3 separate regions of the Homo sapiens genome follow, and all the other regions are linked to region 1. Evidence: fine-mapped expression QTL. A gene starts in region 1. Each other region holds a variant in brackets. All regions are shown on one strand. Distances are between the middles of the regions.

Region 1 (4,237 bases):
GCTGTTACTTACATGCAGGAATGGTGCAGTCTCTGGTGTTGTGATAAAGTCTATGGAAGTGTTTGCTGCACTTTGGACTAAAATAAAGAGGGCCTGGAACACGGAAGAAGAAACAGATCATGAAGACTCACAGGTGAAAAGGAGCTCTGGGAGACGTGAGGAACGAGGAGAAAACTTACCTGTAAGGTGTTTTAGAAACTTGTCCTTCATCCTCAGATCTCGAGGAACAATTTCTGTTTCAGGGAAAAGAAAGTATTATATTACCTGAAGGACGCATTTTTTAAAAATGTGATCTTAAGTGAATGTTGAAGAAAATTGGAGCTCCATATTAGCCAAGTTGCTTTGCACAAAATAAAAAAGACTGGGGCCCTGGATTGCAACACACGACAGTGAAGAAGACTCAATATCAGGGACATTTATTTTCCTTGAAATAACAGTAACTGCTCCTGAAGCTCCAGGATTATGTCGGCTGTCTACCCCGTGGGATGCAGACAGAGACCACGAAGTTACAGAGGTAAGAAAACTGTTTTTTTTTTCTTTTAAACATTTAACTTCCAGTGAATAAGTCACTTTTAGGCACTTTAGTTTTAAGGACCTTGGGAATCAAATCCCACAACATTTCAAAGTTTTTAGAGAAAACCTGACCCTTCAAACAAAAAAATGGGTTACAGAACATTACTTTATCTAGATACATATTTAGAGTAAGGATTAAAAGACCACGTTTCAGTGAGGTGTAAATTAGTGGGAATATGCATGAACCTGGTTTGTAGGGTAAGAATCCCAGGGAAAGACTCTGCCAAGCAAACTTCTTCCACCAGGGTTCTCCGCACACAGTGGGTGGGGAGAACCCTGCAAGGGCGTTCTTCTTGAGTTCAGCTTTGTTTTTGCGTATTTACAGCCCTCTCCATCTTCACTCCCCCGTTCAGGGCTCCTGGCTGAGCCCCGACTGTGTGTGAAGTCACGCCCTCTGAAGAGGAGCATTCGCATCCACAGCTGACCCCCTAGTGAGTCTTCATTCACTCCTAACTTGACGCAGCCGGGATAAAACTGACCTTATCATGTTTGACCTGATTGTGTCACAAAAGCATTAGACGCTTTCATGCTTTCCTGGGAAATTCCCCGTGGGCCACCACTCTGGGCAGGGCCATGAAGGAGCCTGGATGCTTCCTTTTCAGTTGGGAAAGCTTTGCTGGAAATGCTTCCATTTCCAAAGTGACGGTTGACAGTTTAGTGTGGAAACCACCGACCCGCGCCGCAGCTCACGCGCGCCAGAAGGAGACCAGGCGCTTCTCCGCCAGGCCTCATGCGCGGACCTATTGCTGCTATTTTCTTTTTCTTAAAAAAAAAAAAAAAAAAAAAAGGAATCCTGCTGTTCAGTGGTCAAAATTGATGTCTCTTTTTGAAACGTGTTTCTCAAAGACAATTCTATTTCCCAGCAGCCCCGGCCCTCGGGCGCGCTCGGCCCCACTCACCCACTCGCTGCTCCGGCGAAGGCCCCAGCCCCGCCGCCTCCGCGCGGCCCAGGGCGCAGTCCCGCCCGAGGAGCTGCAGGCCCTTGTGCTCCGCCGAGTGGTGCTTCCGCAGCTCCTGGACGAGTTCCACCACCAGCCGCAGCAGCGCCTGTCCGTCCGCCGGCTCCCGGGGCTCCGCGCCCCCCCGGCCGCGCCCCGCCGCCCCCAGCACCAGCAGCAGCCCCAGGAGGAGGGGGTGCCCGGGTCCGCGCATCGTGCGCTCGGGGCCGCGGGGCTGGGAGACTCCGACACGCGCCGAGAGCTGGGCTCGCTGCGAGAGAAGGGGCGCGGGGGGCCGGAGAGAAAGTCAGCGGGGGAGGGGGACGGAGCGCGGGGCGGGGGAGGGGAGGGGAGGCGGGAGGAGCCGCTGGCGCTGGACCCGGCCCCTCACCTCCGCGGACCCCGAGGAACAAGCCGGCAGGTGAGGGAGCCGCGGTCTCCTCGACGATCACGCCCGAGGTCCCGCCCACGGGGAGCGACCGCCGCTGGTGCGGAAAGGAGCCCCCGGAACCCGCCCGCCCGCCAGCCCGGCCCCTCCTAACTTTCGCCCGAAAGGCCGCGTCCGCCGAGCGCGCTGCGCCTGGCGCGGGCGCAACTTTCTTTCCCCTTTGGAAGCCGCGGGTGCCAGGCAGCTCCCCGGCCGCGGGCGGACCTCGGAGGGGCCGCGCTCCCGCGCCTACCGCTCTCCAAGAAGGCGGCGCCGCGCGCCGGGCCCGGCGGCCGCGCTCAAGTTTCCAGCGTCGCCTTTGCGCGGTGGTCGCCGGCGAGCGCCGAGTCCCCGAAGCCCACGGAGGAGGCCGGGTGCGGACCCTCGCGCTGGCCCCGGCCGCGCCACGTGCTGGAAGCCCCTCCACCTCCCGGCCATGGCGCCCTCCCGCACCTGCCCGGCGCCACCCGGGAGCCACCTGCGCGTCGTGGCCGGGCCGGTTACCTGGAGCCGCCGGAGTCGTCGCCGTCTGTGCGCACGTCTGTCCCCGCGCCCCGAGCTGCGCCACTACTCCATGCCCGGCGGGCGGAGCGCACGGGACGCGGGGACTCGGCCGCTCCGAGCGCTGGACCCACGGCCGACCTGGGGTGCGCCGGCTCCGAGTCCCGCCTCAGACCTCGGGGAGCTTCTTATCCCCGCGCCCGCCGACGTCAGGCGGGTCCCCAAGGGCTCCGAGCGGGGCTTTAATTAGAAGCCGCTGAAGTGTTAGTACCCCCATGCGGATCTTCGTCAGTCCCCCCGCCTCACCTCGCTCTCGCCTCCCCCCGTCTCCCGCTCCCCCTCAACTCCGCCCCCGCCCCCGCCCGGTCCCCCCACCCGCATCTCCACCGCGTCTCCCCCTCGCCCGCGCCCCGTCTCCCGCGCCCCTTCCCTCCCCACCTTCCCCATCTCCCGTCTCCTCCTCTCCTGCCCCACCTTCCCCCACTCCCCGTCTCCTCCTCTTCCCCCTGTTCTCCTCCCCCCGCCCCTCCCCCAGTCTGTTTCCCTCCGTTCCTGTCACTTGTGACAGGATGAGAAGAAACGCCTTTACCAGGAACTCGGTTCTGTTTTTGTCTAAATGTAGATCTTGGGCTATTAAAAAGGGAGCTGCCTGATTGCTTCGACATTTAATAAGTCAATTAGAGTCCATCCGTTTTGGAGGGATCCGCTCTCCGGACCTCGAGGGGTCTGCCCCGCCCGAGCCCAGTCCCCAGGTTCGGGTCCCCAAGCCCTGGTCCCCGAGGCGGGGCGGCCAGGAGGCAGGAGATGGGCGGGTGAGGACTCTCCACGGCCCCCGAGGTGCGCACAGCTGACCACCCGAGGAGGGGCAGGACCTGCACCCCCTCCCCAGACCCCCTGCGAGAGGACGAGCGAAGGTCCCTCCCCGGCAAGGACCGCGCCATCTGCGCGCTCCTCTGCGCTGGACCCTCGGCCCGCGGGTCCCTCGCGCCCCGGCAGGGAACGCCCGCAGGAGGGCACTTGCCTCCCGGACTCGTCTTTAAGAAAGTTTGGCTCTTTGGCCGAAGCCCGGCACATCTGTGAAAGTTCAGCAATTTGCCTCTTTTATTTTATTCTTGTAAAATGTATTATCAATCAGTTGCGCACTTTCCCATTCGATTGGTGCTTTCTGGGCAAGAGCTGGACGTCTTCCAAGTCCGCGATCTGTTTGGGAAAGGTGTTCTGAGTGCAATCAGAGAGGCGGAGTGGGCGAGAATTAAAGGCCTGCACCATGATCGGGGCAGTCGCAGGACCGCGGCGGGAAGGTGCTGGCCCAGGCGCACGTGAGCGCGGGCGGTGCGGGCGGAAGGCTCCGCGCCCCGATCCCCCAGCTCCCGGAGAGGCCCCGTCTGCGCCCGTCCCCGCGTCCTTTCTCTCTTCCTGCACGGGGTCTGTCTCCTCAGGAGGAGAAAGTGTCCGGCAGAGCTGGGCGGGGAGGCAGCGTGGAGAGAGAAGATATGAAATGTGCCGGTTCCGGACCCCGCCCCACACCCTTGGGATCTGCGTTCTCTCCGCTCCCTTGAAAAACAGATGGTTTGATTTCACAGCGAGGCTTTTCTTTTTCTTTTTGCAAGCTACATGACTGAAATGTGAACATTTCTGCTAAAATACACTCAGGAAAAAGTAAAATTTTATGTCAAACAGACCTTAGGCACATAAAAGGAGGCATTTTTCGTTTCTCTCTTTCCCCTTCCCATGTCCAAGAAGACACTTGAGTTCCACGGGCAAGAGCGACGCCTGGCGATGGAACCGGCCCTCCCCG
Region 2 (4,237 bases), 140 kb after region 1:
AAATATAATTGTTAGTGGATCACACAGGCTTCATCTCATGAGAAACAACAGCTTCCTGTTTTTCTCTTAAATTCTCTGACCACCTAAAAGAACAGAGTGGGGCAGGACGTCCTCACACACACATCCTACGAGGACGGCTCCAGGAACCACAATGGGCGAGGAGGGCTCGGGCGGCCGCTGATTCTCATGACTCTGTGGGTCTCAATGCTCCATGAGAACGTAGCCCAGCTCATAAAAGTGACCGTAAGATCCGTCTCCTCACAGCGAAGACTGAAGCAGTGCCACCAACTGTCTATCTCTTGACTTCCTATTACTTGGGGAAAAAAAGTCTCCACATATTTAAGATGCTCCAAGTTGGGTCTTTTGTTCCACAAAGGTGAATTATTTGTAACTAATTCAAGAGGATAGAATCATTACATAAAAAGTAACCATTTTGAAATCTAAAAATATCAAACAATTTTTATAAGCATAACGTGAAGTAATCAGATAACCAAAGTCAGTACATTTGACTGCATAGATGTCAATTCACAAGCCCTGATCTGATGAAGGTCACCCATGCATGACGCTGGCTGGGGGCCGCACTGCCACACTACTCTGGGAGTATGAATCCATGTGGCCCTTTGCACGATCAAAAATCAATGTGCATGATCACCTGAGCTTGCTTACCTTCTCTTACCCTACGTTTCCATTCCTAAATACACACCTGAGAAAAATTCTAGCACACTTTTGAAATGAAAAATATAAATAAAAAGAATTGCTTTTAGAAGTATAATTTGTAATGATTTATACCGGTGAAAGATATCGGGACATCTCAGGATATAAAAAGAGAATATATAAATATTTTAAATACATTTACACAGTATAGTAGTATGCATTAGTGAAAAAGAATGGAGTATAGTTATTCATGACTTGGATAAATGTTAGAAACATAATATTGAGTGAAACGTTATCACTTAAGACTATATAAAATATAGTGTGTTTATAAAGTTCAAAAATGGCAACTTAAACAAAAATGAGTAATTATGGTATAAACAAGTCTAAGTCACATTCGAGAGGGGAGTCATTGTTGGGTTTGCTAAGCCTTAGGCTGAGGGGCATCTTTATCACCTTCCATGATTTTCATACAAACATTAAGACCCGATCATCATGCAATACATGAGGTCCCTAATTTAAAAGGTGTAAATGTGTTGTATTAGTATGGCGAGGCTAATGGAAGGCAGTATTCATTTTTTAATCTGCCTATTATTTTGGGGAGAAAGCCAAAAGAAAAACTACCTTTTGAATATTAGTCCTTCTCGAACTTGAATCTTCTCGAATGTAGGAACCTCCTGAGTATTTTGTTAACATTTGGACTCTGGTTCAGCAGGTCTGGGTGGGCTCTGAGGTTCTGCACATCCAGCCAGCCTCCAGGAGATGTTCATGTGCCACACTTGGACTCACCAGACTGTGCATAGAAGCTCTTCAGAACGTGGAGAATCCTAGCCCCTTCCCATGTGAGTATAAGGAACGGTGTTTAGTGAAAAGATAAAACTGGATCCATTCCTCACAGTGTATCCTAAGATAATTTCCAAATGGATCATA[T/C]TGAAATGCAGGAGATGAACCCCTATACAGAAACATATATCTATTATTTTATTCCCCATGACTCAAAATCCAGAGGCAATAGAGGAAATGTGGTAGGTTTCATTATATGGAAAAATATCTACATGGTAAAAAGCATAAGCTAATGATAAATGGAAAATATTGACTGACAAGTTATATCACACACGAAGGGTTGGCAGTCCATCTACATTAAGAACTTCTAAAACCACAGAACAGAAAGACCAATAAGCATATAAAAATACATTAAGTATATGAACAGACTGTTCATAGATAAAGAAATGCTTTTTTAAAAATACTGAACTTCATTCATTACAAGAAAAACACCAATTAAAACTAAACTAAAATAAAAGCATTTCTTTAAAAAAGTAGCCTCTTCTGTTGACTATAAGACAGGGCGTTCTTTTACAAGCTGGTGGGAATGCAAAATGCTAAACTGGTGTGAGTGGGAAGTTTTGCAATATCTGGCGAAATATTATATCATTTTTCTCTAGAAAAAGCAATCCTACCTCCAGGGATTTAGCCTTCTGAGCACAAATACTAGAAGACGTATGGGGCTCAATTTGCAATAGAATTGCAAGTAAGCAAGCTAGAAAACAGCCCGGCTGTCCCAGGCTCTGTCCTGGGTGTGAGATTGAAGAGGAAGCGATATGGCATTTTCACACAACATAAAAATATGCAGTTACAAAAATGAGTGAGAAATATCTCTAGCATATGTTAAGGGAAAAAGCAAGGTGAAGAAAAGCATGTAAAGTATTGGAAACATTTGTCCATGAAAATAAGAAATATACATGCTTATTTGCTTATATTAGAAAACATGAAATGATAAGTTGCACACACTATTCCCTGGAACCCGTCACCCCGTTTTTACAGCTATGGATCCATAGCTCCTCCAGCTTCACCCGTAATTCTCCGTTCATTTACTAGAGAAGAAATGTCAGGCATTCTATCAATCTCCTAGGTCTGCATGAGGAATCCCCGCAGACGAGGTGGCTAAAACAACAGAAATTCATTCCCCCTCAGTGCTGGTGGCCTGAAGTCTGAGATCAAGGTGTTGGCAGGGTTGGTTCCTTCCACAGGCTTTGAGTGAGAACCTGTTCCAGGCCCTGCCCAGCTCCTAGTGGCTGCCAGCCATCCTCGGAGCTCCCCAACTTGTAGACATGCCCTCCAGTCCCCACCTCAGCCTCCACACAGTGGGGCTCCCTGCATCCCCTGCACCTGAGTCCAAATTCCCTGTTTTTATCACATACAACTGGAGAGTCATGCTGGAATTAAGGCCCACCCTGACCCAGAGGACCTCATCTGAACTTTATTACACCTGCAAAGCCTATTTCTAAATACATTCACATTCACAGGTAACGGAGGTAGGTCTTCAATATATCTTTTTGGGGAACACAATTGTACCCACTCCAGACATCACGTTATTTCATCTGTACTTTTGTATATAGTTTAATTCTATCTTTTTTTTCTTGGTAGAGATAAGGTCTTGAACTCCTGGCCTCAAGTGATCTTACCACCTTGGCCCCTCAAAGGAGGGACTGCAGAAGCATTTAGCAATAGTTAATTGTTTAATAATTGTTGTTATTTGTTACTGTAGTATTATCATGTATCAGTAGCAAATTAAAAGTATACACTTTTTGAAGAATGTCATTCTTAATTTACTATTTTAAATTTACCATGTTTTCTTGCTCCACAGATAAATTGGCAATTATTCTTTCCTTGGCCTTCTTAAAGGAATGCTTAACATCTGATTTTGTTTTCTAAAAATTATCTTGTGGTTATATTGATACCAAGAGTCATTCACGATTTTGCAAGTGTGTTGGTGGTTTGTTTGTTTGTTGTTTGTGGGTCCACAACCACATATTCCCTTCCTCCTTCGCTGCATCCTTGCTTCCTTTCTAAAGGCACAAACAATCGTTCTTGGACTAGGTTCACTTCTCTCATCTTTCCTGTTTCATGCTCAAGATTTCCTTAAAAACAAAAGCACAGCGTGGCTTTACCATTTACGTTCTGTCTCTTTTCCAACGACCTCTTAACTCCCCTTTGTTCCTTCAGAGTTCCAGCAGCAGAGTTGGCTGGTCTGCTGCAGAAGCTGGGCCCCTCTCTCCTGGGCCCATATGGGATTCCTGCAGTGCTTGGCACCCATGGCCACTCACCTTTCTGCACCCTGCTCTACATCAAAGGCCATTTTCAGTTGATACTTATGAAAAGCTCAGTGATGATGATGATTTTCTTGAAATTATTTGTAAAGCAACAACTAATACTTGGAAAGTGATACATTTCAATTTTGAAGACACTGAAATTCAGTAAACTTTATTCAAATGTTATTGCATGACTTCAATTTGCACTTTCCAAACAAAAGTGTTACACCTAGCAGTTCATATATTTGACCATTTTTAATCCCTTCCTTCCTTCCTTTCTCTCTTTCTTTCTTTCTTCTTTCTTTTTCTCTTTCTTTCTTTTTCTTTCTTTCTTTCTCTTTCTTTTTCCTTTTTTCTTTATTCCTTTCTTCCTTTCCTTCCTCTCCTTCCTTTCCTTCCTTTCCTTACTTCCTTCCTTTCTTTCTTTCTCTTTCTTTCTTTCTTTCTTCTTCTTTCTCTTTCTCTTTCTTCTTTCTTTCTTTCTTTCTTTCTTTCTTCTT
Region 3 (4,237 bases), 110 kb before region 1:
CTGTGACACATGCAGAAATGACTTCCTTTTATTTTTCATTCAGTCCGTAGGAAGAGAACAGCTGCAAGAGAGAGAAAGAAAATGTACACGGTGGCTAGGTGGAGACGGCACCTGAAGAGTGAGTTTCATGTTTAGCCCCAACAGTTTATAAACATTCATGTGGTGATTAAAGATATTCCCCAAAACCAGAAAACACAACTGAGTCAGCTTCTGTTAGTGAGCATCACGCTGCAACCCAGGGGCCAGATGTCCTTGGAAAAGATCAGAGACATAACACAAATGAGTCAGCTTCTGTTAGTGAGCATTGCGCTGCAACCCAGAGGCCAGATGTCCTTGGAAAAGATCAGAGACATAAAACATCGCCGCCTCTGTTTATGCAACTTACTGAAGTTTACATGGAACCCCCGTGCCCTCCCTGCGTTTAACCTTCTATGCAAATGACAGAGACTGTCACTAGAGAAGGAGCAGTAGATTCTCATCCAGTTCCACAAGTCAACACGAGCATTGTCTCACTCCCCATGTTGACAGCTGCAGAGGATTTTCCATTCCCTGCCCCTACTGCTTCCAAAAACATCGGTTTTACATTGCCATAGCTAATGTTAACACCTCCTAGAATAAAGGGGGAATCACCACCGAGTGTCAGTTCTGGTTCAGACTGTGGAGTGAGGGTGTTATTCTTCTTGCATAAAATGTAGTGACTCCACATTGCACCAGTGGCTTGGTAAAAAAGACAAAATTTCTAGGGAATTAGTATCGATTATTTTTAACTATCATAACCTTGGCTTTATTGACACTTTGTATTAAACAGATCTCACTTGCCAAACGCCACAGGATGCAAGCCAACAGACGGGCCCAGAGAGCTCTCGTGAGCCGGAACTGTCACATAAGAAGCAAAACCACGAGAGAGAGAACACCACCCACATCCAACACAGCATAGCCACCCTGAAAGCCTCAGCATGTAAACTTTCGTGGCACCACCCTTTCTTTTAGAAATGTGTTTAGATTTTATAGACTTTTGCTAGACTTTGTTATGTAAGCTTTATGTACTGAAAGGTCTTAATTAAAGATTTTTAAATGTTGAGTAAAATGTTCACCAGTATAGTTTGTAATATATATATAACAAACCTGTCATATAATTTATTTTCTTTAAAAACAAGGCCCTTATACAAATTGCCCATGGAACTTTTATTTAGAATTTAAGGTCATTTGGGGCTTAGTGTCATATAAACAAAATTCTCCCAATTGCTAGGGTCCTCTTGGGGTGCTGCATTCCTGCGAACCATGATCATGCCAGGCTTTGTCAGTGATTGGAAAAACAGATCCTTCTCTGTCTGGGAGCTCAAATGCCTAGGGTGATGCCAGATCAAGTTTTCATTACTGAGTCATACATTCCTAAATTCAGTGTATCTCAGAAAAACAGACATACCTTTAACTCACAACAGTTTAACCTGACAAAGGTCTCAAATACTTCTATTGCAATAAAAATTGTGAAAAGGCTATCTTGCTAGAGATCTCTGACTCAGAGAAGAAAGTGAAGGTTGGGCATGGTAGCTCATGTCTGTAATCCCAGCACTTTGGGAGGTTGAGGCAGGTGGATCACTTGATGTCAGGAGTTTGAGAGCAGCTTGGGAAACACAGTGAAACCATCTCTGCTAAAAATACAAAAATTAGCTTGGCGTAGTGGTGCTTGCCTGCAGTACCAGCTGCTTGGGAGGCTCAGGCAGAATTGCTTGAACCTGGAAGGTGGAGGTTGCAGTGAGCCAAGATTGAGCCACCACATTCCAGCCTGGGTGACAGAATGAGACTCTGTCTCAAAAAAATAAAAAAATAAAAAATAGGCCAAATAAATAAGAGAGAGAGAAAAGAAAGTGAAGAATCTCAGTGACTGCAGCATTTTGGAACAGAATTTCTTTCAGGGAGGAATAGGGCACTGAGTATAAAAAGCAGCAGTGGAAAGAATTGCACAAACCCCTTTTCCATGCACTAGGTCTCTGGGTATAACTTTTATGAAGTTTAATTTCCTTCTAGTTGAATAAAGGTAGCAATGTGTTGCCTTTTACGTTGTGTATGAAGAGCCTAGAATGATGATCGACACCAAAAAGGAGTCAGTAATTTGATCCATTCACTCTTGGGTGCTGAGCTCCTCAGGGCATAGGCAGGAGGCACAGCTGGAAAGCCACCTGTGGGTGCACAGGTGCTGCTGGAGAGCAGAGTGAAGGAGGAAATAGG[A/C]CAGGTGCTAAGGAACATGCAGGTGGAGCTGGAACACAGAGTGCAAGAGGGAATAGGCCAGGTGCTAAGGAACATGCAGGTGGAGCTGGAGAGCAGAGTGCAGAAGGGAGTAGGTCAGGGGCTAAGGAGAACACAGGGGCAGCTAGAGAGCAGAGTGCAGGAGGGAATAGGACAGGTGCTCATGAAAACACAGGGGAACCTGGGGTTCAGAGTAAAGGAGGGAATAGGACAGGTGCTAAGCATAATGCAGGTGCAGCTAGAAAGTAGAGTGCATGAGGAAACTAGAAGAGATGCTAGAGGAACACACTGAGATAGGTCCTGAGGGCTCCACTGAACCATACTTATCACTGCGTTTCAGAGTTCTTTCTTCTCATGCATCTATTTAAAAGGTGATCATTTGTGCACACTTTCTATCCTGCAGTGTAGCCATTTTAAGTATTCCTAACTAAATTGAGAGCAATTTAAGAACAGATGTCTTCTTGCACACACATGTTTATAGCAGCAAAATTCACAATTACAAAAATATGGAACCAGACTAAATGCCCATCAACCAACGAGTGAATAAATAAAATATTATATATATTATATATATATATGTATACACACACACACACACACACACACACACACACACACCATGGAATACTACTCAGCCATAAAAAGTAAAAAAATAATGGCATTTGCAGCAACCTGGATGGAGTTGCAGACCATTATTCTAGTGAAGTAACTCAGAAATGGAAAAGCAAATACTATATGTTCTCACTTATAGGTGGGACCTAAGCTATGAGGATTCGAAGGCATAAGAATGATAAAATGGACTTTGGAGACTTAGGGGGAAAGGTGAGAGGGGGTGAGGGATAAGAGACTACACATTGGGTACAGTGTACACTGTTTGGGTGATGGGTGCACCAAAATCTCAGAAACCATCACTAAAGAACCTACGCAAGTAACCAAAACCACCTGTTCCCCAGAACTATTGAAATAAAATAAAATAAAAATAACAGATATCTTATTCCTTTGGTAGTCCCCAGGGCCTAGCTCAAGAATTTACTAAATGCTTGTAAAATATAAGAATAAATGGAACAACTGGGTAAGCACAGCTCATGCAGAGACATCCAGCCGTTTCAGAAGTGTTAAGGTTCAGAGCAGTGGGCCCTGCGTAGGTCCTGGGTCATGGCATTTCCAGGAGGCACAGCCGTTTCAGAAGTGTTAAGGTTCAGAGCAGTGGGCCCTGCGTAGGTCCTGGGGTATGGCATTTCCGGGGAGGCACAGCCATTTCAGAAGTGTTAAGGTTCAGAGCAGTGGGCCTTGGGTAGGTCCTGGGTCATGGCATTTCCAGGAGGTACAGCCATTTAAGAAGTGTTAAGATTCAGAGCAGTGGGCCCTGCGTAGGTCCTGGGTCATGGCATTTCCGGGGAGGCACAGCCATTTCAGAAGCATTAAGGTTCAGAGCAGTGGGCCCTGCGTAGGTCCTGGGTCATGGCATTTCCAGGAGGCACAGCCATTTCAGAAGCGTTAAGGTTCAGAGCAGTGGGCCCTGCGTAGGTCCTGGGTCATGGCATTTCCAGGAGGCACAGCCATTTCAGAAGCGTTAAGATTCAGAGCAGTGGGCCCTGCGTAGGTCCTGGGTCATGGCATTTCCGGAAGGCACAGCCATCTCAAGCCTCCTTATTTATGGTGCGTGCTCTAAACCTCACACAGCACAGGCTTTTCTTTAAAAACATCAAGGTGAAATAAACCACATATTAATCTAGGTGGGCAATTAGAGAACCCACACAATTTAGTTGTATAATAGTAAACTTCTGCTGCATATTTAAAGGAAAATAGATAATATACTTTTTTTAAAAAAAGTGCAAATTATTCCACTATTTCTGAATACTCACTGCTTCCCATTGGAGAAGATGTAACCTAAATTACCACCCCATCTTGAGAAACAATTGTTCTCCTTTTATTTCCTTTTTATTTTCCCTTTTTTCTATTCTGGGCTTTTAATAATGCTTAGTCATAT

Which allele goes with the higher level. Positions count from the first base shown, and alleles are read on the strand shown. Sizes are in standard deviations (SD) of each study's normalised expression. Not every link is listed here.
With allele C in place of A in region 3, the expression in NK cells of the gene that starts at base 1,981 in region 1 is higher (moderate effect, 0.48 SD a copy in Gilchrist 2021).

What was found. PIP is the estimated chance that this variant, and not a neighbour inherited with it, causes the effect.
Region 2: its variant is the best candidate, but not a certain one, in a credible set for the expression of ALKAL2 in whole blood (INTERVAL, PIP 0.71).
Region 3: its variant is the best candidate, but not a certain one, in a credible set for the expression of ALKAL2 in NK cells (Gilchrist 2021, PIP 0.77).

What each region holds. Positions count from the first base shown.
Region 1 is chr2:286,111-290,347 of GRCh38, forward strand. ALKAL2 (ALK and LTK ligand 2) reads right to left here and starts at 1,981. Exons shown (of 6, transcript NM_001002919.3): 1 at 1,903-1,981; 2 at 1,473-1,782; 3 at 180-233; 4 at 13-93. The coding sequence starts at 1,725. LOC101927262 (a long non-coding RNA gene) reads left to right here. Exons shown (of 3, transcript XR_007085917.1): 1 at 1-514. RefSeq lists a silencer at 1,496-1,545.
Region 2 is chr2:430,711-434,947 of GRCh38, forward strand. No RefSeq gene overlaps it. Among named protein-coding and RNA genes, the nearest start is that of LINC01874, 60 kb to the right of the region's middle. The variant T/C (reference allele first, on the strand shown) is at 1,582.
Region 3 is chr2:175,708-179,944 of GRCh38, forward strand. It overlaps LOC105373324 (a long non-coding RNA gene), which reads right to left. Exons shown (of 4, transcript XR_922689.3): 2 at 1-61. Among named protein-coding and RNA genes, the nearest start is that of SH3YL1, 86 kb to the right of the region's middle. The variant A/C (reference allele first, on the strand shown) is at 2,230.